2 linked regions of the Homo sapiens genome follow. The protein of the gene in region 2 interacts with the protein of the main gene of each other region in a pairwise test. Each region holds a gene or a part of one and is shown on either strand. Other genes may lie near its edges. The genes, in order: PEX26 and KCTD15.

Evidence for each region.
Region 1: the proteins of KCTD15 (region 2) and PEX26 interact in binary tests that used the Homo sapiens proteins (3 or more experiments, as listed by UniProt).

Annotation. Positions count from the first base shown.
Region 1 is NC_000022.11:18,086,124-18,098,561, reverse strand, and holds part of PEX26 (peroxisome assembly protein 26), read right to left. Parts: intron 10,591-12,438; coding exon 10,487-10,590; 3' UTR 1-10,486. UniProt on the Homo sapiens protein: Peroxisomal docking factor that anchors PEX1 and PEX6 to peroxisome membranes. PEX26 is therefore required for the formation of the PEX1-PEX6 AAA ATPase complex, a complex that mediates the extraction of the PEX5 receptor from peroxisomal membrane.
Region 2 is NC_000019.10:33,797,989-33,810,426, forward strand, and holds part of KCTD15 (BTB/POZ domain-containing protein KCTD15), read left to right. Parts: exon of another isoform or gene 1-406; intron 407-679; 5' UTR 680-682; coding exon of another isoform or gene 683-778; intron 779-1,605; coding exon of another isoform or gene 1,606-1,634; exon of another isoform or gene 1,635-1,730; intron 1,731-2,439; 5' UTR 2,440-2,466; coding exon 2,467-2,532; intron 2,533-3,178; coding exon 3,179-3,354; intron 3,355-8,870; exon of another isoform or gene 8,871-8,874; coding exon 8,875-9,019; intron 9,020-12,438. UniProt on the Homo sapiens protein: During embryonic development, it is involved in neural crest formation. Inhibits AP2 transcriptional activity by interaction with its activation domain.

The sequences.
Region 1 (12,438 bases), on a different chromosome or scaffold from region 2:
CTCCCAGGTTCCAGAGATTCTCCTGCCTCAGCCTCCTCCTGAGTAGCTGGGATTAAAGGTGTGCACCATCACACCCAGCTAATTTTTGTATTTTTAGTAGAGGTGGGGTTTCATCATGTTGGCCAGGCTGGTCTTGGCCTCCCGAAGTGCTGGGATTGCAGGCATGAGCCACCGCACCCAGCCAAGGAAGATAATTTTTGTCCCCATCTTGGAGGTGAGAAAAATTGGACCCGAGATTAAATGACTTATGCAAAGTTATAGGGCAAATTAGTAACAGAGCCAGAACCAAAACCAGTCCAATCCTATATCTAGAAAGCTATATATTTATACTTTTTTTGTGTGTGTATGTGTGAGACAGAGTCTCGCTCTGTTGCCCAGGCTGGAGTGCAGTGGCTCGATCTCGGCCCACTGCAACCTCCGCCTCCTGGGTTCAAGTGATTCTTGTGCCTCAGCCTCCCAAGTAGCTGAGATTACAGGTGCACGCCACCACACCCAGCTAATTTTTAGATTTTTTGAAGAGATGGGGTTTCATCATGTTGGCCAGGCTGGTCTCAAACTCCTGGCCTCATGATCCACCTGCCTTGGCCACCCAAAGTGGTGGGATTACGGGCATGGGCCACTGCACCTGGCCTCTAGAAGGCTGTATTATAATTACCATTAATTACATATTGTCCTTTATTGTCATCAAAATCATGCCACTTCTTTGAAAAATAAAAAAATCATCTGGGTGTGGTGGCTTATGCCTATAATCCCAGCACTTTGGGAGGTCAAGATGGGAGGATCACTTGAGGCAAGTTCAACACCAGCCTGGTCAGTGTAGTAAGACCCCATCTCTGTATTTTTTATAAGAAAAAAAAAGGAAGGAATAAAACAGAGTACATAATATACTACAGGTTTTTTTTATAAAAAGGAGAAGAAACTAGGATCTATATCCATACTGGTTTTGTATTGGTGTATTAAATTTACCTCTGGAAGAGTAAATTTAAAACTAATGGCTGTGGCCAGGCACGGTGGCTCATGCCTGTAATCCCAGCACTTTGGGAGACCGAGGCAAGTGGATCACGAGGTCAGGAGATCAAGACCATCCTGGCTAACACGGTGAGACCCCGTCTCTACTAAAAATACAAAAAATTAGCCGGGCGCGGTGGCAGGAGCCTGTAGTCCCAGCCACTTGGGAGGCTGAGGCAGGAGAATGGCGTGAACCCGGAAGGCGGAGCTTGCAGTGAGCCGAGATCACACCCCTGCACTCCAGCCTGGGCGACAGAGTGAGGCTCTGTCTCAAAAAAAAGAAAAAAAAAAAAAACTAACGGCCATAGCTGCCATTGGGGTAGGTGAACTTGCTAAATGAAGAGATGGGAGGTGATATGGTTTGGCTCTGTGTCCCCACTCAAATCTCATCTCAAACTGTAATCCCCACGTCGGAGGAGGGACCTGGTGGGAGGTGACTGGATCACAGGAACAGTTTCTCCCCTGTTGTTCTTGTGATAGTGAGTCAGTTCTCACGAGTTCTGATGGTTTTAAAGTGTGGCATCCCCCCTCATTCTCTCTGCTGCTGCCATGTAAGATGTGCCTTGCTTCCCCTTTGCCTTCCACTATGACTGCTTGTTTCCTGAGGCCTCACAGCCATGCAGAACTGTGAGTCAGTTAAACCTCTTTTCTTCAACAATTACCCAGTCTCTGATACTTCTCTAAAGCAGTGTGAAAATGGACTAATACAGACTGCTTTCACACTAGACTTTTTCAAGCCTTTTCAAAAACCCTATGAATGTATTGCATATTTAGAAAATTAAACATGGTCTGAAATGAATATATAAAAAGGCTTAGCACTTTAAGAAATCAGAGCCGGCCGGGCGTGGTGGCTCACGCCTGTAATCCCAGCACTTTGGGAGGCCGAGGTGGGCAGATCACAAGGTCAGGAGATCGAGACCATCCTGGCTAACACGGTGAAACCCCATCTCTACTAAAAATACAAAAAATTAGCCGGGTGTGGTGGCGGGCGCCTGTAGTCCCAGCTATTCGGGAGGCTGAGGCAGAAGAATGGCATGAACCTGGGAGGCAGAGCTTGCAGTGAGCTGAGATCGTGCCACTGCACTCCAGCCTGGGCGACAGAGCGAGACTCCATCTCAAAAAAAAAAAAAAAATTCAGAGCCATTTGCAAAGCCTAGTTCCTAGGCTAAGAACAGGAATCAGAAGTGCTGCCTTTTCTGTGGTCTGATGTTCACAAGATGCTGGGTTCTACCACTCCAACTCTCCCCTCCTTACCTCACTTAATTAAGAGCAACAGTAATAATAACTAGCACCTGCTCACTACATGCTATGCACCTTTTCAGTGTTTTACATGGATTAGCACCAGTTAATCCTCACAACAAACCTATGAAGTAACTGAGGCACAGGAAAGATTATTTGAAGGTCAAAGCAGGTGAGTCAAGATACAAACTCAGGCCGGGTGTGGTGGCTCATGCCTGTATTCCCAACACTTTGGGAGGTGAGGCATGCAGATCACTTGAGGTCAAGAGTTCAAGACCAGCCTGGCCAACATGGTAAAACCCCGTCTCTACTAAAAATTCAAAAATTAGCCAGGCGTGGTAGTGTGTGCCTGTAGTTCCAGCTACTCGGAAGGCTGAGGCAAGAGAATCGCTTGAACCTAGGAAGTGGATGTTGCAGTGTGTCGAGATCATGCCACTGCCCTCCAGCTTGGACGACAGAGTGAGACTCTGTCTCAAAAAAAAAAGATACAAACTTGGGCATTATGGGTCTGGGACCCACACTCTTAACCACAATCCCATGATGTCTCTCATTTACGCAGCAAATTACTCCATTGGGGTTAGGCCTTGTTTCTCAAAAAAAAAAAAAAAAAGGCTTTTGCAAAATATGTTTCCTGGGAGGATTAATAGAGCACATCTTTTAGCCATTGTCTTTAGCACCTCTGAAAACAAGCACTTGTCACCATGGAGACCATGAAATCCAGGAACAGGACAGAACACAAACAAGTACTAAAAGGGGAGTGGGAAGCATTCCCAGAATGTTCCAGAGCAGGGGGTGCCCGCCGGACAGAGATGTCAGAGCCCACAGAGGGACTGGGAATGGGTAGGATGTCTCTGGTGGGGCGACCAAAAAATTTTACCAGCTCCCCAGCTTTCCAGAGAAAGCAGCCCATTCTTTGAGACCCAGCTAAGTCCACTGGTAACCAAGAGCATGGCTTATCTGTGTGAGTCATCCAATGAAACTACCAGCTTGTATTTATACCTACCCAGGAGGACACCCGCCAGGCTTTGTCATTGCTGGTACATCTGAGAAGAACACCTCCTGCTCTTTCTCTGGAGGGAGCTGGGCGACGATACTACTAAACAGATGCCAAAGCACAGAGCCCTCCCCTGCCCCACCTCCACCCTTCAGCCCTGGTGCGGGTCTTATTGCTCACCAACTCTTGCTGCTTCTATTTCTTCCTTCCCTAATTCCTAAGGCCAAAATCCAAGTTCATTCAACAAATCTTTATTACTTGGCCTCTTACATGGATGGCCTCATTCCAGGTGCTATGGGGGAGATAAGAACAGAAATCCTGGTACCTGTATGCCTAGATTCAAATCCCAGCTCTACCATTTAAAAGCGGTGGGGCACTGGGCACATTAGCCCCTCTGAGTCTGTTTTGCTGTCTCTAAAATGATAATATCTACCTCGCTGGCTTGAACCCAAGAGGAGGGTGCAGTGAGCCGAGATCGCACCACTGCACTCCAGCCTAGGTGACAAGAGCAAGATTCCATCTCAAAAAAAAAAAGAAGAAAAGAAAAGAAAAGAAAAAAAAAGCCAAAGGAAAATAAGAAACTAGCTATGGAGGCAGAAAAGGGGCAGTCAGTGGGGTCAGAGACAAGGCAAGAAGCCAAAGAAGGGATGGCCCTCTACCGCATTTGGAAAATAAGCCTGTAACATAAAAGTATGCATGCATTTTTCTGAGGGCAAGAACCTGTAGGTTACATTCTGAGGACCATACAAATCGGTTTTCCACCTAAGAAACTTCTCCATGTAAATTATGTTGAGGTCGTCATTAAAGAAGCTTTTTTCTCTCCAGGTGCCGTGGCTCACGCCTGTAATCCCAGCACTGTGGGAGGCGGATCACGAGGTCAGGAGATCGAGACCATCCTGGCTAACACGGTGAAACCCAGTCTCTACTAAAAATACCAAAAAATTAGCCAGGCGTGGTGGCGGGCGCCTATAGTCCCAGCCACTCGGGAGGCTGAGGCAGGAGAATGGTGTGAACCCAGGAGGCGGAGCTTGCAGTGAGCTGAGATCACGCCACTGCATTCCAGCCTGGGTGACAGAGCGAGACTCCATCTCAAAAAAAAAAGGCTTTTTTCTGAAATGACACTCTTCTACAAAAGTGCTTTCATTTCTTCACCAAGTCTCTGCTATTATCTGACACCTGTCCGTCCCACCTTGGATAGTACAAAAGTGACAAGAGGATGCTAAAAGTTTTAAAGGGGCTGTTGGAAAATACGAGCTGGGAAACATGTAGAGCTAAATATGAGCTCAGGTCAATATTAAAATTGGAAGTAGGTCACAGAATCCCAACCCCACATATTTGGATCCAGCCCTTGGTGAGTGGGCCTTGGACTGTACTTCACAATCCCATCTTCACCTGCAGTTGTCCGGCCAACATGGCCCCTTCCCGCCTGCCCTTTCCTAACCACCTCCACTCTCTCTAGTGAAGACGCTGAGCTCGCAGCCATGCTGGTTGCACACTGCCATTTTCTACAGGTTCTCAAGTGCATGGGCTGCCAAGAGGGTTGGGTGTTTACATTTATTTTTAATAGAAATGGGGTCGTACCCGGGGCATCTCTTTTCTTCATACTGCAATGTTGCTAGATACACAATCAGACACCAGAGGGTTGGGCATTCTTGCAATACCTTAACAGTGCTGAAACCTGCAGCATGGTACTAAGGAAGTTAAAGTTAGAATGTAACCACTTTATTTAAAAGGTTTATTTTTGTTTTTTTTTTTTTTAAGACGGAGTCTTGCTCTGTCCCCCAGGCTGGAGTGCAGTGGCGCCATCTAGGCTCACTGCAAGCTCCGCCTCCTGGGTTCACGCCATTCTTCTGCCTCAGCCTCCCGAGTAGCTGGGGCTACAGGCACCCGCCACCACGCCCGGCTAATTTTTTGTATTTTTTTAGTAGAGATGGGATTTCACCGTGTTAGCCAGGATGGTCTCGATCTCCTGACCTCGTGATCCACCTGCCTCGGCTTCCCAAGGTGCTGGGATTACAGGCGTGAGCCACCGCGCCCGGCCAGGTTTTTTTCTTTAATTTAAATGAAATGGGGTTGAAGTGAACATGATCTTGTTGACCATGTTCGTGAATTATAGATGCAACATGCATTGGTAGAATCGTGTGATGGTCTTTTGTGATACTTAATTTTTACATATCCCAGTCTCTGTATGTATCTGCACAAAGAAAAAACAAACTCCTGCTTTGCTCTTATTGAAGGGTTCCCAGGACTGCGTGTCTGCTCCTGAGCTCTGTTTTAAGTATGTGTATCCTTTGCTTGTATTTTGTATTAAAAAAGTAAGAAAAAGAACCCTTTATTGTTGAGCATGTTGGCATTGTCCCGTTTATTTTTTTCTCTTTTTGGGACATATGAAGCAAGTTATTCTTTTTCTGTATCTTTTTTTCTTTTGTAAACTTTTTGTTTTTTTCTTGTTTAAAATTGGCTTTATAAAAGGGCTTTTATAACCCACCCCCCCCCCAAAAAAAAGAAATGGGGTCCCACTAGGTTGCCCAGGCTAGCTTTGAACTCCTAGGCTCAAGCAATCCTCCCACTCTGGCCTCCCAAAGTGCTGGGATTATAGGTGTGAGCCACCATGCCAAGTTAAAAAAAAAAAAAAAGTCTGTGAAGCAGGAGTTGCAGGAAAAAAAAGAATTAGTTAATTAATTAGGGGGAAAAAAGCTGAAAGAAAATCAACCGTATTAATAGTAATTATTTCTGAGTGGTGGGATCACGAGTCCTGTATTTCCTTCTATGCAATTAATATTTTCTAAAATATACATGCATTGCTTTAAGACAAGAAAAATACTTGCTGTTTTATCAAGAGGCCTAGAGGTGGCAAACAATGTCTGGATCCGTACACCACCGCTGGAGGAATGCAGAGGCGGGCGGGGGCGCGACAGGCTGCTAGGCACCGTGCCCACTGTCTGTCCTGTAGCTTCCTACCAGCCCGAAACACTGAGGTTTCCAGAGGCAGCGAGGCAAAAGGGCCAGACATTTTTCTGGTTAACACTCCATGTATTCAGTTTCCAAAGGTGCTAGGCCAGGGCGGTGAGGCCGACCTTGGCCAGGCCGTGGGTGGGTTGCTTGACTAGGCCAGAGAGTAAATCAGTAGAATTCCCACAGGCCCCATCTGTGGATGTGAGGCCAAAGTCCATCGGCCCCACGGCTTTTCCGTGCTGGGAGGGAGGAAAGCAGAGGACGGCACAGGGAGGCTGGGAGGGAGGAAGGAAAGCAGACGACGGCACAGGGAGGTGCCCTACTCGCGGTTCATGTCATCACTTTCGCTTTCTGACAGTTCCTTGGGCTGCTTTAAGTGGATAGCAGAGGCCACCTTCTAGATGTAGAAAGAAACTGAACGTCCAGAGTGTGAACTGGCCTGCTTGTATCTCCCCTCGGCGGCAGTGGTGGTTGCCAGCCTGGCTTGCGTTTGCCCAAAAGTAATAGTAAAGAGCTCTGACCACTGCTGCTCACCCTAAACTTGGGGCTGCTGTACTTGTAGGCTTTGGAAAGCATGGAGGGGTTTCCACATATTAAAAAGGAAAAGGGCACCAGGTCTGTGCTCTGTGACCCCATCACGCAACGGAATGACACACAGCTATGAAGAATGAGGCTGCTCCACATATGCTGGGACTGAGAAAGGTTTTTGTGTTTTGTTTCGTTTCTGAGACCAAGTTTCACTCTTTGTTGCCCAGGTGGGAGTGCAATGGCGCGATCTCAGCTCACTGCAACCCTTGCCTCCCGGGTTCAAGTGATTCTCCTGCCTCAGCCTCCTGAGTAGCTGGGATTACAGGTACCCACCACCATGCCCGGCTCATTTTTTTTTTGTATTTTTAGTAGAGATGGGGTTTCACCATGTTGGCCATGCTGATCTCGAACTCCTGACTTCAGGTGATTCACCCACCTTGGCCTCCCAAAGTGCTGGGATTACAGGCATGCGCCACCGCGCCCAGCCGAGAATTGTTTTTTTTCTTTTTAAACGTGGCACAGTGTGTGTAGTGTATGTGACTACTATCATTTGTGTAAGAGAAAGAAAAGTTTACTATCAGAGACTGTATCTGGAGGGATAAACAGACTGGCAAGGGTTGCCTCTGGGCAAGAAACTGGGGAATAGAGAGCGGGAGTAGAAAGACTGTATTAGCTGGGTGTGGCAGCACACACTGTAGGCCCAGCTACTCCAGAGGCTGAGGGGAAGACTTGCTCAAGCCCAGGAGTTCAGGTCCAGCCTGGGCAACACAGCAAGACTAAAAAAAAACAACTTTCTTTTCCAAGAATACCCTTTTTGTAACTTTTGAATTCCGTATTTTTTAATGGTCTATGGTCTACAAACACTCATGTGCAAACACATACACGCAGAATAGGGATCACCTGCACGAAGCTATGAACTATTTCCTCATCCCTTCTAGCCCCTTCCTAGAGGCGAACCCTCCGCCCCCACCCCCAGGCACTATCTGTCCTGCTTGCACCCACCTCCACCCAGGGCTGGCCAACAATAGCCTGTTTCCTCTCCATTCCACCCCTCTCCCCCACCCTCCCATCCCACCACAGAAGAGGATTACTGGTTCCTGCTTTCCTTAGCGCCCCTAAATTTAAAGGTATCTGTTCTATGTTGCATGCTTCAGAACCCTGTAGAAACAACCAGCAAATCCACTGTTGATACGCAATTACCCCTCTTGGATGCATCTGCAACAAGCACTCCCCAGCTTCGAAGGGGCAGCAAAGAAGTTCACAATTACAAGACCATGGGGTCACGACCACAGAAGCGATATGAAACAGGTCCCGGGACACAGGGAGGGGCAGAAAGAATTCTTTGAGTAAGCCTGGAAGGTGGAGGGGCTCACCAGGCCAAGAGCAGGTGCTAGGCCTTCAGTAGGAACAGTGCGAGCCAAGGCACAGAGGCCAAGGGGAGCGAGCTGTAGCTGTGATGGTGGGCAGCTGGAAGGCCGCACATATAATCAACAGGGGACCCACATCAAAGGGGAGATCTTAGCCAAAACCAGCACATAGGGGCCTTCAATTCCATGAAGAATTTAGATGTTATCCAGTGAGCCATGGGAAGCCATTGAAGCGTTTTATCTAGGGTAGTTAAGTGGGCCCAGATTTTCATTTTAAGAAATCATTCTATAGAAGGAATCTCAAACCTCACCTGACTGCTTTTCTCCCCCCAGGGTTCTAAGCTTTACTTAAAAGCCCATATAAAAAAGTATAGATTTGCTTCCTACAGACTTGAACCATGCCCTAAGGATTTAATTCTAAGGGGCCTGTGAAGTTTACCTACTTTACTCATTTTTCTAAAGAAAAGTTGGCCGGGCGCGATGGCTCACACCTGTAATCCCAGCACTTTGGGAGGCCTAGGTGGGTGGATCACAAGTTCAGGAGATCGAGACCATCCCGGCTAACACAGTGAAACCCAGACTCTACTAAAAATACAAAAATATTAGCCAGGCGAGGTGGTGGGCACCTGTAGTCCCAGCTACTCGGGAGGCTGAGGCAGGAGAATGGCATGAACCCGGGAGGCGGAGCTTGCAGTGAGCTGAGATCACGCCACTGCACTCCAGCCTGGGTGACAGAGACTCCATCTCAAAAACAAACAAACAAACAAACAAACAAAACAAAAGAAAACTTGTTGCCTTGCAACCCCCGAAAATGTACCAAGGAAAAGCTAGCAAGCACCTTCTCTATTTTGGGCATCAACACCAAGGACACAGTGCAGGGCAGCCTGCTTGGCCTCTGGGTAGAGAAAGGCCAGCCCCTGCAGAAAGCCCTTCTTCATCCTGACAGCACAGCAGTGCTCTACGCTTCCTTGCACAGAAACTCATAAGATGCTTGTGGCTGGTGAGAAAACAACACTGAAACATTTCAGCTCCTCAAATGCTAAGGCCTCGGTGCCACCTCCCTAAGGTTTTATTGTTCACTGCCTTCAAAACCCATGTCTCCCGTCTGCCCCGCCCCCCACATCCCTTCCAGCTCACCTGATTACTCAGTTCCATTTTCAGCTCAGCAGCCTCTGAGGCTGGCCTACTTTTCAAGGCCACACGAGCAGAAAAATTTGGGCATTACACAAACAACAGAACATAACTAGGACAATGGGACACAGAAAGGGAAGAACCTGAAATGGTGTGTACCAAGGAGGCAAGGATACAGGCAGAACCTGGTGAAACAGCCAAGGGACAAGTTTGCAGGGCGGGAGGGAAGGGCTGGCGGGGAAAGAGTGGGCAGAGGCACTGAGCGTAACAGAGCAAGACTTGGCCAGGACAACCTGGAAAATTGAGCTGAAGACCAAGAGGCACCAGGCAAGATCACTTTACCCAGCGATAAGAGCTGTAAGGCTCACTTGGTTTTCAGTAGTCAACCCGGTGGTTCTGAAAACCACACCCCAGCCTGAACAGTGAGAAGGCTCCTGCAGCTTCAAGCGCATGGCAAGACCATGGGAACAGCCTATTGATACAGAATTAGATCAGCTCTGGGGAGCACAGTGCAGGCAAGAAGAGGCCCTCTCAGATCTACTCTAGCTAATTAAGGTACTGTCCTGTGGGGCATGTTTTTTTGTTTGTTTTGAGAGAGTGCGGTAGCACAATCTCAGCTCACTGCAACTTTTGCCTCCCTGGCTCAAGTGATTCTCCTGCCTCAGCCTCCCAAGTAGCTAGGACTATAGGCGTGCACCACATCTAGCTAATTTTTGTATTTTTAGTAGAGATGGGGTTTCACCATGTTGGCCAGGCAGGTTTTGAACTCCTGGCCACAAGTGATCCACCCACCTCACCCTTCCAAAGTGCTGGGATTACAGGCGTGAGTCACCATGCCCAGCAAAGAAGTATGTTTCTCAAGAAGTGAAAGGCCAAGGGTCACTTCACCAGGCTTTTTCTGAACTTCCAGCTCCATTAACATCCTGACCTGAAGAACCAACCCCTTGCCTTCACCAAGAAGATGGAATGTTTCATGGACACAGTCCCTGTCCCCAAACCCCTCCTTTTCAAGGGGCCTCTGGTCATCCGGGGCACTGTTCTGGAGGTGCTGTGCCTGCTGGTCCTGCTTTGTTTCCACATCATCTACCGCGACCAGCCGAAGTAGGGTGCAAAGGAGAGGGCACCCAGGCAGCAAGACACAGTGCACTCCGCGAGATTAGGCTGGTCCCATTTCCCCAGGGGCGCCTGTGGATGTGTCGCTCTGTCGCTCTGCTTCTGTGGCCACGGACGTGAGGAGCAGAGAGGCTGTGGTGCGCAGGGACCCTCAGTCACGGATGCGGAGCTGGTAGAGGCGAGAAAATGCAGCCTTCCGGATCCAGCGGAAGAGCTGGGCCAGCTTGTAGAGGAAGTGCAGGGAGGAAGGGGAAGCTGCAGGGCAGAGGGAGACTACAGTGAACGTCCCACCCCTCTCACCTGTCACTCTGCCATCTCCCACCCTGGGAGACTCCACTACCAATTACACATAGTTGGTTTTGTTTTGTTTTTTTTAGAGACAGGGTCTCGCTCTGTCACCTAGGCTAGAGTACAGTGCAGTCTGTGTTCAGCTCACTGCAGCCTCAATCTCTGGGGCTCATGCGATCCTCAGCCTGCAGGTGCAGGTTCTCCTCCCCCACCATCATCACTCCAATGAGTCGGGCCTGCTGCTGAGGGTCAGGGCCACTGGGCCAGGCCCTTCTGAAGCAGCCTTGGAAAGAGCAGGCTCAAATGTCCTCATGCCATCCCCACTAGGAGACCAGGGTTTACGAGACTAAAGGGCTTACGGGAACCATAAAGAATCATAAAGAGTTTCTAAATCTGTATCAGTCAGGAGGTGGCCAGGGATGAACGCTGATGATACTGAGCATTCCGAGCGCTAACTCGTGACTTCTTTGTAAAGCAAACAGAGTCGTCCACAGGGGATCCCTGCTCAGCATTCAGCAGACGGGTTAGAAGGACAACTCTGAGCTATGTGACGGAAACCTCGCTGGCCAGGCATGATGGCTTGTGCCTATAATCCCAGCACTGTGGGAGGCTGAGGTGAGAGGATCACTTAAGGCCAGAAGTTGGAGACCAGCCTGGCAAACATGGCGAAACCCCGTCTCTACTAAAAATACAAAATGTAGCCTGGCATGGTGGTGTGTGCCTGTAATCCCAGCTACTTGGGATACTGAGGCAGGAGAATCGCTTGAACCCAGGAGGCGGAGGTTGCAGTAAGCCGAGATCACGCCACTGCAACCTGGGCAACAGAGCAAGACTCTGTCTCAAAAATAAAAATAAAAAATTAGCCGGGCATGGAGGCACATGCCTGTAGTCCCAGTTACTTGGGAGGCTGAGGAGAGAAGATCGCTTGAGCCTAGGAGGCAGAGGTTGCAGTGAGCCAAGATCACGCCGGTGCACTCCAGCCTGGGCAACAGAGAAAGACCCAGTATCAAAAACTAAATAAATAAAATAAAATAAAAATAAAAATAAATAAATAAATATTTTAAAAAAGCTCACTGAATAAGAGAAAGAGAAATGGGGAAACAGGGAGAATCTAAAGACTAAGTTAACAAATGGCACTTCTCAAAATAGACAAACCATTTGAAGGGACCAGTATAAGGGTTTCTGATTTCCTCTTAAATTTTGAAACTTATTTAATCATATTCTAAGTCTAAATTCATGAGAAGAGTAGAGATTAGAACATAACTCACACTGAGTAACACAAAAAAATCTAAAAGAGCGAGTGCCAAGTTTGGCTTCATGCACCTGAGGGGTCAATCCTCAGGAAATAACTGGGGTTGTTCCCAAATATCACTTAGGGAGCTCATTCCTTCTTCACAGCGAGGCAGAAAACAGAATAATCACCCAAATGTTCAATAATAGGGGTTGTTAAATTACTTAGGGGCATTCCTGTGAACTGGAATAGTTAGCGATTTAAGGCCATGCTTGAAAGCATATGTGTGACATGTAACTGCCTACAATCTCTATATCCATAGAAAAAGACTGAAAGCACAGCAGAGTAGCAGATTTCTATGCCCTTCTTTATACTTTTCTCTATTTTCCACATTTTTTTTTCTTTTTTGAGACAGAGTTTCGCTCTTGTAGCCCAGGCCAGAGGGCAACAGTGCAATCTTGGCTCACTGCAACCTCCGCCTCCTGGGTTCAAGCAATGCTCCCTGCCTCACCCTCCCCAGTTGCTGGGATTACAGGCACGCACCACCACACCTGGCTAATTTTTGTATTTTTAGTAGAGACGGG
Region 2 (12,438 bases):
CCGCGGCCACCCCGCCCCGCGGCGCCTCCAGCCTTGGCCCAAGCCCTCTCCCGTCGCCCCTAAGTTCACACCGGCCGGCTGGCTCCGCGGCGGAGGCGGGAGGGGGGGGGTGGGGAGGCTGGCGCGCACCAGGTGGCCCGCCTGCCTCTCCGGGGCCACCCCTGGGACAATTGTGCAGGCCCCCAGGACTTTCGCCCCGGGCCAGCGCCCTGAGTGCGGAGCCGAGGGGAGCTCGAGAGGCGCCTTCTGTTTACCTTTTATGGTTAAAATAACAGCTTAGCAAAGAAGCGACTTCAGAAGAAGCGATTTAGTGAAATCGTCTCAAGCTGCCGCAGCTCAGCCAGTTTAATCACCCCCAGAGAGCCGAACAACTGCGAGCGCAATGGGACACAAAATCATTTTGTGTGTAAATGAGCGTGGCATTCTGCTCACTTCTCTCTGCTCGGGCGGGCGGGGCTCGGCGGCGGGCGGGCAGGGACCCGGGTCTCCCGCCGCAGCTGGAGAAGCGGGTCACTACCGGGCCAGTTTGGAAACCTGTGGGCCCTCCCGACCGCTATCGCTGAGGCCCCTGCAACAGGCGGGCCAGGGCGCACTGGGGCTGGGTGCTGGGTTTGATGCTGGTGCTGGTGGAATGAACTTGTATCTCTCACTGCACCCACTTTTGTGCTTCTGACTTAAGCAGTGGTCTCGGAAAGAGGGTCGTGGTCCCGCACGGATGCGCTTGTTGGGAGAAACCTTGGAGATTCACGGCAAGGCGTAAAGCCTGGGGCTTCCAACGGTAAGTTTCTGGCTTGCCATGAACATCAGGTTGTTCTTGGGAGGGAAAAGGGGCTAAGAACAGAGTGGAGCGGCTTCTGTGATGGAGGCTTGGTGTTCACGTCACTTTGGAATAGTGTCCTGGTATTGGGGAAAACATCTTGCAGTCCGCTTTGATAGAATTTCAGCCAGAATTCCTTCCTGTTCAGTTTATCCTCAGCGCGTCTTCCCTTCTGACTCCTCCCCCAGCAGAGCCTCCTAGGGCAGGATAATCCATTCCTGAGGTCTGTTTTGGTTCTCAGAACTCCTTGAGCTAAGTGACCTGGTTTTGTTTTTTTAAGCTTGTAGAACTCAGGAATGCCAAAAGCAGTGGATTCTGAGTCCACAGGCCCCAGTGAGGGTATATATTAAACATCACTGTCTGCCCATTGCAACCTCCCACCCCAGTTTTATGTCAGGAAACTTGCCCGGGCACTCAGGGAGAGCAACCTTGCTTACATTTGCAGGATTTGATTCTGGTTGGATTAAAATTGGATATTGAATTTCAAGGCACAAATTTTGATCCCAGAGTTTTAATGGGAAAAAGCAATCCCATGGGTCCCAAGAATTTCAAGTGGTTTCTCTCTTAAAGGTTAAACCTTCGAGAGACGTCCAGGGTAGGTTTGTGGAAGCCAGTGTCTGTGGATGTGTGAAGGGGGGTGACTATTCACGTGCAAATCTCCTCTTTCCTCCCTTTTGAGACAGCTGTAAATCAGTGAACGGGGCTGCAGAATTCTGCCCCTCCTGCATAGGGCCTGCAAAGCGCCCCTGGGTGTGGCTTCCAGGGACTGAGGGACAATCTTATTTCAGGTGACTACGGCACAGAGGAGAGTTACTGAGTGCCTCTGGGGAGGAGCAGTAGAAAGGGTCCATTGGCTGATCTGCTTGCTCTGTGCTTCCTCCTGGCCACCTGGCCATCTCCTGATGCCTCGGGGGTATGTGATCCTGAGGGGTCTGGAATGCATTAGGCATAGACAACACCACTCTGGGAGTCTGGGGAGAAACTGTGAGGTACAGACTAGGCAAACAAAGACAGGTTTTCTCTGCTATTGGGAGCCACAGAGAAGAGGCGGCTTCCCAAGTGACTTGCCCTCATCCATGTGCCTGGACTTCTGCTGAACGGCTTCCCTGTGTCTGGCCAGATGCAAGCTGTATCTTATCACCATGGGGATGGTATTAAGAGAGGTCCTAGGTTCCCTGGCCCATGGAGGGTGAGGGGTGCTTTCTGAGCCTTGGTCCACAAGGCTGTTGCAAGAGGAGACACGCTTGGTAACATGGCTTGAAAGGAAAATACCAGGAAAATCTGGTTTGTTCTGAAATATTTTGGGGCAATAATGGTGAGCATATGTTTCAGTGCTGTCATTAGCCGAATTAGCAGACATGGAGCTGCCCAGAAAACACATGTGTGAGTGTGACTGTGTGTGTGTGCATGTATGTGTGTGTCATCTGCTACAGCCTGGAGGCCTGCTTTGGGGTGTGGAGACAGATAGAGAGATAGTGGCGGTGGAGTCAATCAGGGAGGGCTGCATGGACCTCGCAGGGTCTCAGAGAGCATGCAGAAAGGACAATTCTAAGTGTCTTTGACCCCATGGTACATGACTAGGAGGAATAAGCCTTCTCTGGTTTTGTCGATGCCTCCCGCAGATACTCTGGGCAGGGATGGAAGCCTAGATGCCTCACCGCAAGGAGCGGCCGAGCGGGTCCTCGCTTCACACACACGGCAGCACCGGCACCGCGGTGAGCCTGCAGGGTGGGCTGGGTCCCTGCCGGGAGTTCCCTCTTTCCCTTCTTCCCCAGTGCCTGTTTACTGGCTGTCCTTCCTTGGGACCATGACACTCCAGGTGGCTGTTGACTGGCTGTAGGATTATGTATTTTTGAAACAAAAATGCTCTTAATTTGATGTGAAATTTACTACATGTATAAAACTCAACGCCTTAGGTGCTGAGGAAGTCACTAATTTAGAGGTGTCTCGTTACTGAGACAAACTTGCAAAAAACCCCTGAATCCCAATTCACAAATTGGTGATTCGTTTGTCAGGGGATATTTCACATCTAACACATAAGCCCACGACCTTTAATTAGAATTTTGCAGTTTGTTTTATGCCCCTGGAGGCTGACACCTTGAAAAATTTTTTTTCTTGATTTCTTATTGCTAATAAGCATCTTTCTTTTTCCCTCTGGTACTTTGAAGAAAATGATGCAAATACACTTAATTACAGTGGTGGCCATAATTTGTCAGCTGAATATATGATCAGGCACGGGCAGAAGTGATCTGATTAGATCTGTGATCACACTCTCAATAAAGGGAGTGCATGGCTGTGTTGTGGAGAAACTCTTGTGTTCCGCTTTGAAACTCTTGTGTTCCGCTTTGTTTCCATCTCTAGGAGGGAGGAAACATGTCCCGGCTGTCTCTCACCCGGTCGCCTGTGTCTCCCCTGGCTGCCCAGGGCATCCCCCTGCCAGCCCAGCTCACCAAGTCCAATGCACCTGTGCACATCGATGTGGGCGGCCACATGTACACCAGCAGCCTGGCCACGCTCACCAAGTACCCTGACTCCAGGTAAGAGTAAGCCCCTTGAAACATCAGGCATGTGTGGGTCAGGGCAGCATCTGTAATCTGCTGCCTAGGGGGTGGGGTCTCTCCCCACTGTCACTCCACCCACCAGGGTCTCCAGGGTGCACAAGCTGACACAGCCTGAGGGAGCTAGGGTTGGGGAGTCCAAGTCTGCCTGTTGAAAGCTGCTATGCACAGAGGCTTGTGACCCTGACTTGGCGGCATTGGTAGTGCAAGGTGGAGCTCCTGACCCACCTGCAGGGGACTAGGGCTTATTCAGAGCCAGCCCAGCCTGAGCCTGCCGGCAGCGGGCAGGGGAGTCTCACGTACCTTCAAGGTTCCTCTGGAGGGAGACTTAGGCCCGGCCCCTGCAGGGGGTCATTTGTGAGTGATACTGAGTAGGTAAGTCTTGGGGGCATGGGGGTGGGTATTTAATCCTATTTTCTATTCCACCCCTGGGAAATTCACAAGGGGAGGGAAGAGGAGCTGTGGTGAGCTGCAGTGTGCCATCTTTGTCATTTTCCGTGGCCACTGCTGGGCCCTAGAGGCTAGCAGCAGGCTTCCCTTGGAGCTGGTGCTGCAGTGACTAGCTAGGAATGAATCACATACCTCATCAGTGGATAAAGGGTCTCTGGCCAGGACCCTGGTTGGGGGCTCACAGGCACCCTCCATGCTGCTGAACTTATAGGCTGCCCAGGCCCTTGGGCCTGCGAGAGGTTTGGGGTGCTGGGTGCTGCCAGCTCTCCTGCTCTTCCTTGCAGGGTGTTTCTCTCCTGGGTGAGGGACCTGCTTTCCCCGTTGGCACGGCAGCAGGGCTGACCCGAGTAGGGTGGGTCTTGAGCAGCTTGCTCAGCCGAGGATGTTTGCTCCTGGCACAGAGAGGCGGTCATCGCTCCCCTGGGGCTGCTGAAGGCTGAGCGTGGGAGGGCCAAGGCTGTGGGCATCACCCCTGTGTTATGCATTTGAAATAACAGGAGGAGTTAATTAATCCCCCAGATACTGAGGGATCATCTCTGGGGAGCATACACGGCAGGCTGCATTGTCACCGGTGTGGTTCCTCAGAGCAGGGAGGATGGTAGTGCGCAGAGGTGGCTTTCCAAGCCTGTTGGGGCTGCAGGGGAGCCTGTGCAGGTGCAGGCATGGTCCCTTGAGGAGGAAAAACTGGAAATGGGTGCAGTGTCTAGTTCCAAATTTGGAGAGTCTAGGGTACAGATGGTGACTGGTGTTCCAGTACCCCAGGTGGACAGAGACTCAGCCTGGGGCCCTGTGGCCTTGGGGCTTGTGGGGTGGGGACAAGAGCCACGGGGCCAGGTCAGCAGTGTTGGCCTGTGTGCTCACTCACAGAGCCCTGTCTAGGATGGGAGATAGATTCTGCTTATTTAATTTCCATTTTGCCTTCTGCGGCATTTCTGAGTTGTTTGAGATAGATCATCCCTTAATCGGTTGACGACGTTTGTGAGTGAAATTCATAAAACCTTTGCCCACAACCCTCTCTGAAGAGTTTCCTGAAATCAGAGAGTTGCCTGTCTGGAGTAATCACAGCCCAGGCCCTGGGGGAGGCGGGTGGGAGAGGCTTCTCATTCTGGGCTCTTGGCTGCTGCCTGAGAGCAGGAGGGCAGGGGGCCATCTCCCCCCACCCAGCCCCACTGTGCTGCTCACCCATTGCTTTGTTCTGCTGTGGGATGTGCTCTCATGGGGAGCTAGGGCCCCTGTGGCCCTGTGATCTGGCACTTGGGACCCTCCTGGTGTGCCCAAGGGGTGGCAGTCTATGTTTATTCTTCCCCAGGGCTGGGGCTCAAGGTGAATCTGTTGTTCTGCCTGGATGGCCTCTGGCTGCTGTGGGGGTGCTCTGTAGGCCTGAAGCTTTGGACTAGAGGCCAGGGATGGCTGACCTGCAGGACAATCAGGGGACAGGAGGCCAGGGGGCCTGAGAAGTGGGTCAGGCAGCTGTGCTGGCAAGAGCCCCTCAGATCTCTCTTGTCCTTCCTGTAGTGGATTATTATAATATAAGCAGTTTTCTACCAATTCTGGAAAAAATCAATCTCACCTAGTGTCACTGATCTAGGAGACACCTGGAGATGGAGGACTAAGAGTGCTGTGGTCCTCAGGGGGTTTCTGGATGGTGAAGATGACCTGCCCTAGGCAGCATTGTAAAAGCTGGGACCTCTACCCTCGGCTCCCCTGAGAACTCTGCCTGAGCCTCTGGGTCTCGGCGGTTGGGGTGGCCTGGGTGCTGGAGAGTCTCGTGCTGGGTGACTCCTCTGGTCTGCCTAGGAGCAGTCACTGGTCCTCACCCGAGACAGCCAAGCACAGCCGGGGCTGGGAGTGGATTCCCTGGGCCGGCCCCCTTGCTGGTGTCCTGCCTGCTTGACCCCCGTTAGCTGCCGCCATCACAGCCACACTCTGACATCCATCCTGACTATGGGAAGCATCAAATGAAGATGGCCAGGAGCTTCAGAACTCTTAAAACCTGGTGCCTGAAACAGCCAGGAAATTGGAGCCAGAGCTTAAAAAAAAAAAGGAAATAAACGAGAAGACGAAGGCCATCCTGATGCTCCCCCTTGTGCACACAGGGCAGGTGGTTGGAGGCATCTTTTCTGCCCCTGAGGGTCCCACCTGCTGCAGCGTGAACTGGCCACCTCATTCCATGGAGGACTTCGGAAGCCGGCCCCTCAAACCCTGCATCCTCTCTCAGAGGGTGGCCTGGGCCATTTTCCACAGGGAACGTGGAGCCCCTGACAGAGCTGGGAACTCATACCTGCAGGGCTGAGAATGGCTGAGGGCTCCTCCATGGTGATTATCCTCACCTTTCCTCAACCTGCTCACGTCCTTGGCAGCCTCAGACGCTGAGGGCATGAAAGGCCTCTGTCCTGGGAGAGGCGGTACAGCTGCCGCTTGATCCAGGAGCCTATACTGAACCATGGAAAGATCTAGAATCAGCCTGTCCTGAAATAAGGCAGATGGAAAACCTTCTAAACTTGGACCGATGAGACAACCTAGAACCCATCCAGCCCTGGAATGTGGGTGCATCAGGAGTCTTCTAGACCAACAGGACCAGCTAGAGCCTCAGCCAGACCTGACGTCAGAAGGGTTGGGAACTCAGCCAGGCCTAGAATGCTGCCTGCTTACATGGACTTTGGAGCTCCACTGGGAAGGGTGGGGAGAGTTCCCAGGAGGCTGAGGGTTTGGATCTGCTGACTCACCTTGGATGTAGCTCTTACTTCCCACCGGTGCCACACATGGACCTCAGCCACCTGCCAACCACTGCCCATGGTATCTGGCAGCCTGGGACAGACCCATCTGTCTCCAGGAATGCTGGGTGGCCCTCACTCTGACATCTGGATGCCCACGCTCTACTAGGCCAGGTCCTAGGGCCTTTGTAACTGGAGCCAGCCGTGGAACCCACAGCCTTTCCAGCAGGGGCTGTGACCTGCAGTGCCATTGTCACCAGGCCTAGGGGGTTGACAGGGCTCATCGGCCTTTGGAGCTCTGAGATGAGTTGTATCTGGGTGGCTGCAGCTCTGGGTCCACAGACTCGGGCTCACAGCAGACTCTGACCTCCCCATGCCCATCCACGAGACAGCCTTGCCCTTTTCTTTCTTTCTTTTAAGCGACAGCGTTTGTCTTTCTTGGCCAGGCTGGAGTACGTGGTGTGATCTCGGCTCATTGCAACCTCAAACGCATGGACTCAAGTGATCCTCCCACCTCAGCCTCCCAAGTGGACTACAAGTGCATGCCACCATACCCAGCTAATTTTTAAATTTTTTGTAGAGATGGGGTCTTGCTGCGTTGCCTAGGCTGGTCTCGAACCCCTGGCCTCAAGCAGTCCTCCACCTTAGCTTCCCAAAGTGCTGGGATTACAGGTGTGAGCCACGGTGCCCAGCTAAACCGTGCCCTTTATACTACCCTGCTAGGAGAGAAACCTGCACCGTGTTCCCAGAGACTCCATACCCGGGCAGACCATCATGGCTGATGCATTGAGTGTGCTGGGCCATCAGAGCATAGGATGGTGTGGACGGGAGGCCCTGAGGGCAGACTTGGGGGCTCTGACTCCCTCAGCTCCTGCCCAGCTAGTGTGTCCTGGGTGCAAGTGGCAGTGGGGCAGGGCCCTGGAGACGGCTGACTTGGAGTGGACAGAGGAGTGGGCTGCTGTTAGAACAGGGGGCATCCCTGCAGGGGTCCCTGCTGGTGCAGGCAGAGAGTGAGGGGCTTAGGCTCCAGATTGTGTGCAGGCCGGGCTGGGAAGCCTAGGTCCCAAGTTGGAGCTACTGTTCTCCCAGCTGTGCAGAGAAGCTGCCACCTTGGCAGGGTCCAGCTGGGCAGGAGTGTGGCCCTGCCTGCTGAAGGATGTGGTGGTGCTGCCCTTGGGGAAATGATGCCAACTTCCCTCCTGTTCCCAAACCAAGCCCTTGGCTACTCCCACCCCTCTTTAGGGTTCCTAGTTATCCCTAGCTCGACCTGGGGTCTGCCAGGGCAGTTGCCAAACCAGAGCTGGCCACCCTGGGCACTGGGGAGGTGGTATCAGCCCTGGCTCTGAGGCCTGGCTCCTTCTCCCCGGAGTGGACAGGGACAGGCATCAGGGGCTCCCCAAGACCCTTCTCCTGGTCTTGCATTTGTTAGAACCATTGCCCTTCAGAGGACAGGGTACCGGCACCTGCCTTCTCTCCAGTCCCCATCCGCCACCACTAGGTGTGGTGTGCATACGCTCTGGCATGTGTGCACATATGTATGCACTGTGGTGCATGTGTGTGCATGGTTTCTGTGTGCGTGTGTGTATGCCTGTGTTGTGGCATGTGTGCAAGGGCCCTGTTGCATGTGTGTGCTGTGGCACACTTGCCATCCCTCCTGTCTGCCTCTGTTTCTCCCTGTGGGCTCCCTGAGTGAGCGGCAGTAGGGGATTTGTGCCGTCATGTCTCTGGGTGCCTGGTGTTGACAGGTGTGTGTCCTTTCCTGGATGTGTCTGGATCTGCATGATATGTGTGTGTTGGGAAGGAAGGGACCATGTGACCCTGTGCCTGTTGCACAGGCCTGTGTGTCTCACACTCGTTTACATGGGTTGGGTGGGGAGGATGTATGTCCTGGCTCGTTTACTGGGTGTGTGGCTGTTGGCCGGGGTGTTGGATGGTTCATGTGCATTTTCTGGGTGGGTCTATCTGGCAAGGGTGTGTGCACCAGGCCTGTGACCAGCTGGTTTGTGTGTAGGGGGTAAGGTGCCTGTGTCTTGCTATACCTTTCCAGGCCTGTAACATAACGTGTGTTGGCAGGCTGGTGTGTACAGCTGGGTGTGTCCCTCTCTGGCTGTGACTTGCGGGTGTAGGCAGGATGTGTGGTGTGTCCTGTTAACTGTAGCCTGGCTGCCCCAGGTGTGTGCAGATGTTGTCAGGCCTGGAACAGTTCCAGAGTCACCCATGTCAGGTCCCTCGCCCCTCCAGCCGTGTGGGCCCTCAGGAGTGGGGGCGGGGTGTGGGAAGACAGGCAGACTTGTCCCCATCCCTTCAGACATCCCACCTCGCCTGTCTCTCCCAGGATAAGCCGCCTCTTCAATGGCACTGAACCCATCGTCCTGGACAGTTTGAAGCAACATTATTTCATTGACCGGGATGGGGAGATTTTCCGCTACGTCCTGAGCTTCCTGCGGACGTCCAAGCTGCTGCTTCCGGATGACTTTAAGGTAAGTCCATGGCTGGTGGCCCCCCTGCACTGCCTGTGTGATGGCATTACACAGGGGACGCTGTGACTTAATAAGTGGACCCCTGGTTGTCATGGTAACCATAAAAAGTTAAACGATGAAGCCGAGGGCTAAATCAGTTTTTCTAAACTAATTTTGTTTTCTCACATTTTTAGCTTATTTATCAGGGTATATAACAACAATCAAGCTGCAGAACGTATCCCAGCTGAACATTTGTCGTGTTTAAGGATGGGCGCGTGCCAGCGTTATAGTAGTTAGAGGTTCATAAATCTGTTCCATCGGCTGGGTGCAGTGGTTCATGCCTGTAATCCCAGCACTTTGGGAGGCCAAGGTGGGTGGATCACTTGAGGTCAGGAGTTCAAGACCAACTTGGCCAACTTGATGAAACCCCATCTCTACTGAAAATGCAAAAATTAGGCCTGGAGCGGTGGCTCACGCCTGTAATCCCAGCACTTTGGGAGGCCGAGGCGGGTGGATCACCAGGTCAGGAGTTTGAGACCAGCCTGGCCAAGATGGTGAAACACCGTCTCTGCTAAAAATAGAAAAATTAGCCAGGCGTGGTGGCAGGCCTGTAATCCCAGCTACTCGGGAGGCTGAGACAGGAGAACCACTTGAACCCAGGAGGCAGAGGTTACAGTGGGCCGAGATTGCGCCACTGCACTCTAGCCTGGGCGACAGAGCAAGACTCCGTCTCAAAAAAGAGAAAGAAAAGGACGGCTGTAATTAGACTTCAAAAAATAAAGTATAAAAAGAAAAATGCAAAAATTAGCCGGGCATGGTGACAGGTGCCTGTAATACCAGCCACTTGGGAAGCTGAGGCAGGAGAATCTCTTGAACCCAGGAGGTGGAGGCGGAGGTTGCAGTGAGCCGAGATCACGTCACTGCACTCCAGCCTGGATGACGGAGCAAGACTCTGTCTCAAAAAAAAAAAAAAATCTGTTCTGTGTTGGGCAATTTGCAGGGAGAAAAGCCCTGATGACCAAACAGATACCCTTTAAACAAAAGGTTAACCCCCAGGTCTCCGGGTGAGCCCGTCAGGGCAGGTGACCTGGTTCCCTGGGTCATGCCTCAGTGCTGAGCCCCTCCCACATGTCAGGGACTCTGGGAGGAAGGAAACTCAGGCCTGGGGTACACTGGCATGTATTAATACTAGCAAATGTCTGTCCTTCCTTCCTTCATTCCTTCCTCTATCCAGAGGACCAGTAGCCCTGGGGCCTTGTCTTTCATCCAGCTCAGTTACTGAGTGCCAGCCTCTGAATTCAGGCTGAAAACAGTGAAACACACACACTAGGACCTGCCCCACAACACTTAACAGTCTAGCGGGCAGACAGATACTGAACTTGAAGTCCATGTGACCTGGGCTGGGCGGGTTTGAAAGAAATGATGTTCATCTGGGTGGTGAAGGCAGAACGGGGCCAAACAGGTGTGAGGGCCTTGGTGCAGGGGATGGGGGTGGCAGATGGCTTGATGCATTCCAGAACTGGAAAGAAGGTGTCAAGCCTGGAGCTTTATGGACTGGGAGGGGAAGGTCAGGAAAGGAGGCTGCTGTTTGATGTCAGGACCTTGGTGGGTGGCCCAGTGCCTGGCATTTAACTCTGAATGCAGTGGAAGGGGTGTGTGCAGGGGAAGGGCAGTCAGATCTGCAAATTGGGAAGATCTCTCTGGCTGTTGGGTGGGGAAGAAGGCAGAGAGGGGTGGGGGTGGGTGCAGTGAGGCAATTATGGATGAGGCCCCTTCCCCAGGCCAAGGGAGGCTGGGTGGAGGCTTTGGATGGACCAGGATGGAGATAGAGAAGATGGAGCAAGGTGGCACATCAGACTTCTGTTTAGTACAGGCACAGTGGCTCACTTGGTCATCCCAGCACTTTGGGAGGCCGAATGGGGAGGATCCTTTGAGGCCTGGAGTTCAAGACCAGCCTGGACAACATAGCAAGATGCTGTCTATACAAATTTGTTTTTTAATTAAAAAAGGCCGGGTGCGGTGGCTCACACCTGTAATTCTAGCGCTTTGGGAGGCCGATTTAGGTGGATCACCTGAGGTCAGGAGTTCGAGACCAGCCTGACCAATATGGTGAAACCCCATCTCTCTTAAAAATACAAAAATGAGCCGGGCGTGGTGGTGTGCACCTGTAGTCCCAGCTACTCGGGAGACTGAGACAGGAGAATTGCTTGAACCCAGGAGGTGGATGTTGCAGTGAGCTGAGGTCACACCACTGCACTCCAGCCTGGGCAACAGAGCAAGGTTTCATAAGTAAATAAATAAACTTTACTTTTAAAGTTTTTTAAGAGTAATTTATTTACTTTTCATAAGTAAATAAATAAACAAGCAAGCAAGCTGCAAAAGCACGTGGCTGTGGTAGTGTAAAGGGCCTCTTGCAGGTGCCCCGGGACTTGTGGCTTGAATTCTGAGTTGGTAAGTTGAGGCCCGGGGTGGACCAGGCTGTGGGAGTGGGGTTTCTGCCCCTGCATGGGAGAGCTGGTGGGGCATCAGATGGAGAAATCCTGGGCCATGACAAAAGATGGGGTTGTCTGTCATGCAGTTGTCATTTAAAATCTCAGGAGAATGGCCAGGAGAGGTGGCTCACACCTGTAATCCCAGTGCTTTGGGAGGCCAAGCAGGAGGATCATTTGATCCCAGGAATTCCAGACCAGCCTGGACCTTGTGTCTACAAATAATTATTATTGTTATTATTATTATTATCCTGGCATGATGGCTCATGCCTGTAGTCTCAGCTGCTCGGGAGGCTGAGTCAGGAGGATCCCTTGAGCCTGGGAGTTCAAGGCTGCAGTGAGCTATGATCACATCACTGCACTCCAGTCTGGGCTACAGAATGAGACCCTGTCTAAAGAAAATAAAATAAAAATCTCAGGAGCAAGTGAGAGTGGAGAGAGCAGAGGCCCAGGATAGAGCCCTGAGGAGCCCTTGCATGGGGCAGGAGAGGCAGGATGGGCCACTGACCCATGACAGGCCCAGAGGTCAGGGTTAGAATCTAGGCCTCCCTCCAGGCGGCCAGCAGGTGGAAGGGACTTAGGGCCTGTAGGTCAGGGGGCTGGGCTTCCTTGCCTCTTCCTCAGGCATGAGTCATGGGGACCTATGGGACCTTGGCCATTCCCAGTGGGGTGGGTGTGTGTGAGCGTGTATAGTGTGCATATGTGGCCCAGGGCATGGGGCCAGTATCAGCGCCTGAGGGACAGTCTGTGCGAGGCTGCTTAGCCCAGAAGGGGGCTGCGTGGCAGGGGGCGGGCTTCCCCTCCCTGGACACTTTATCACACTCTGCCTGTTTGGGCAGGGGCTGGACCAGGCACTTGGCACATCTTGCATCCTTTGATCCTCACTTTCATTCTCTGAGCTGGTTGTTTATGTCCATTTTATACATAAGGGAACTGAGGCCGGGCGCAGTG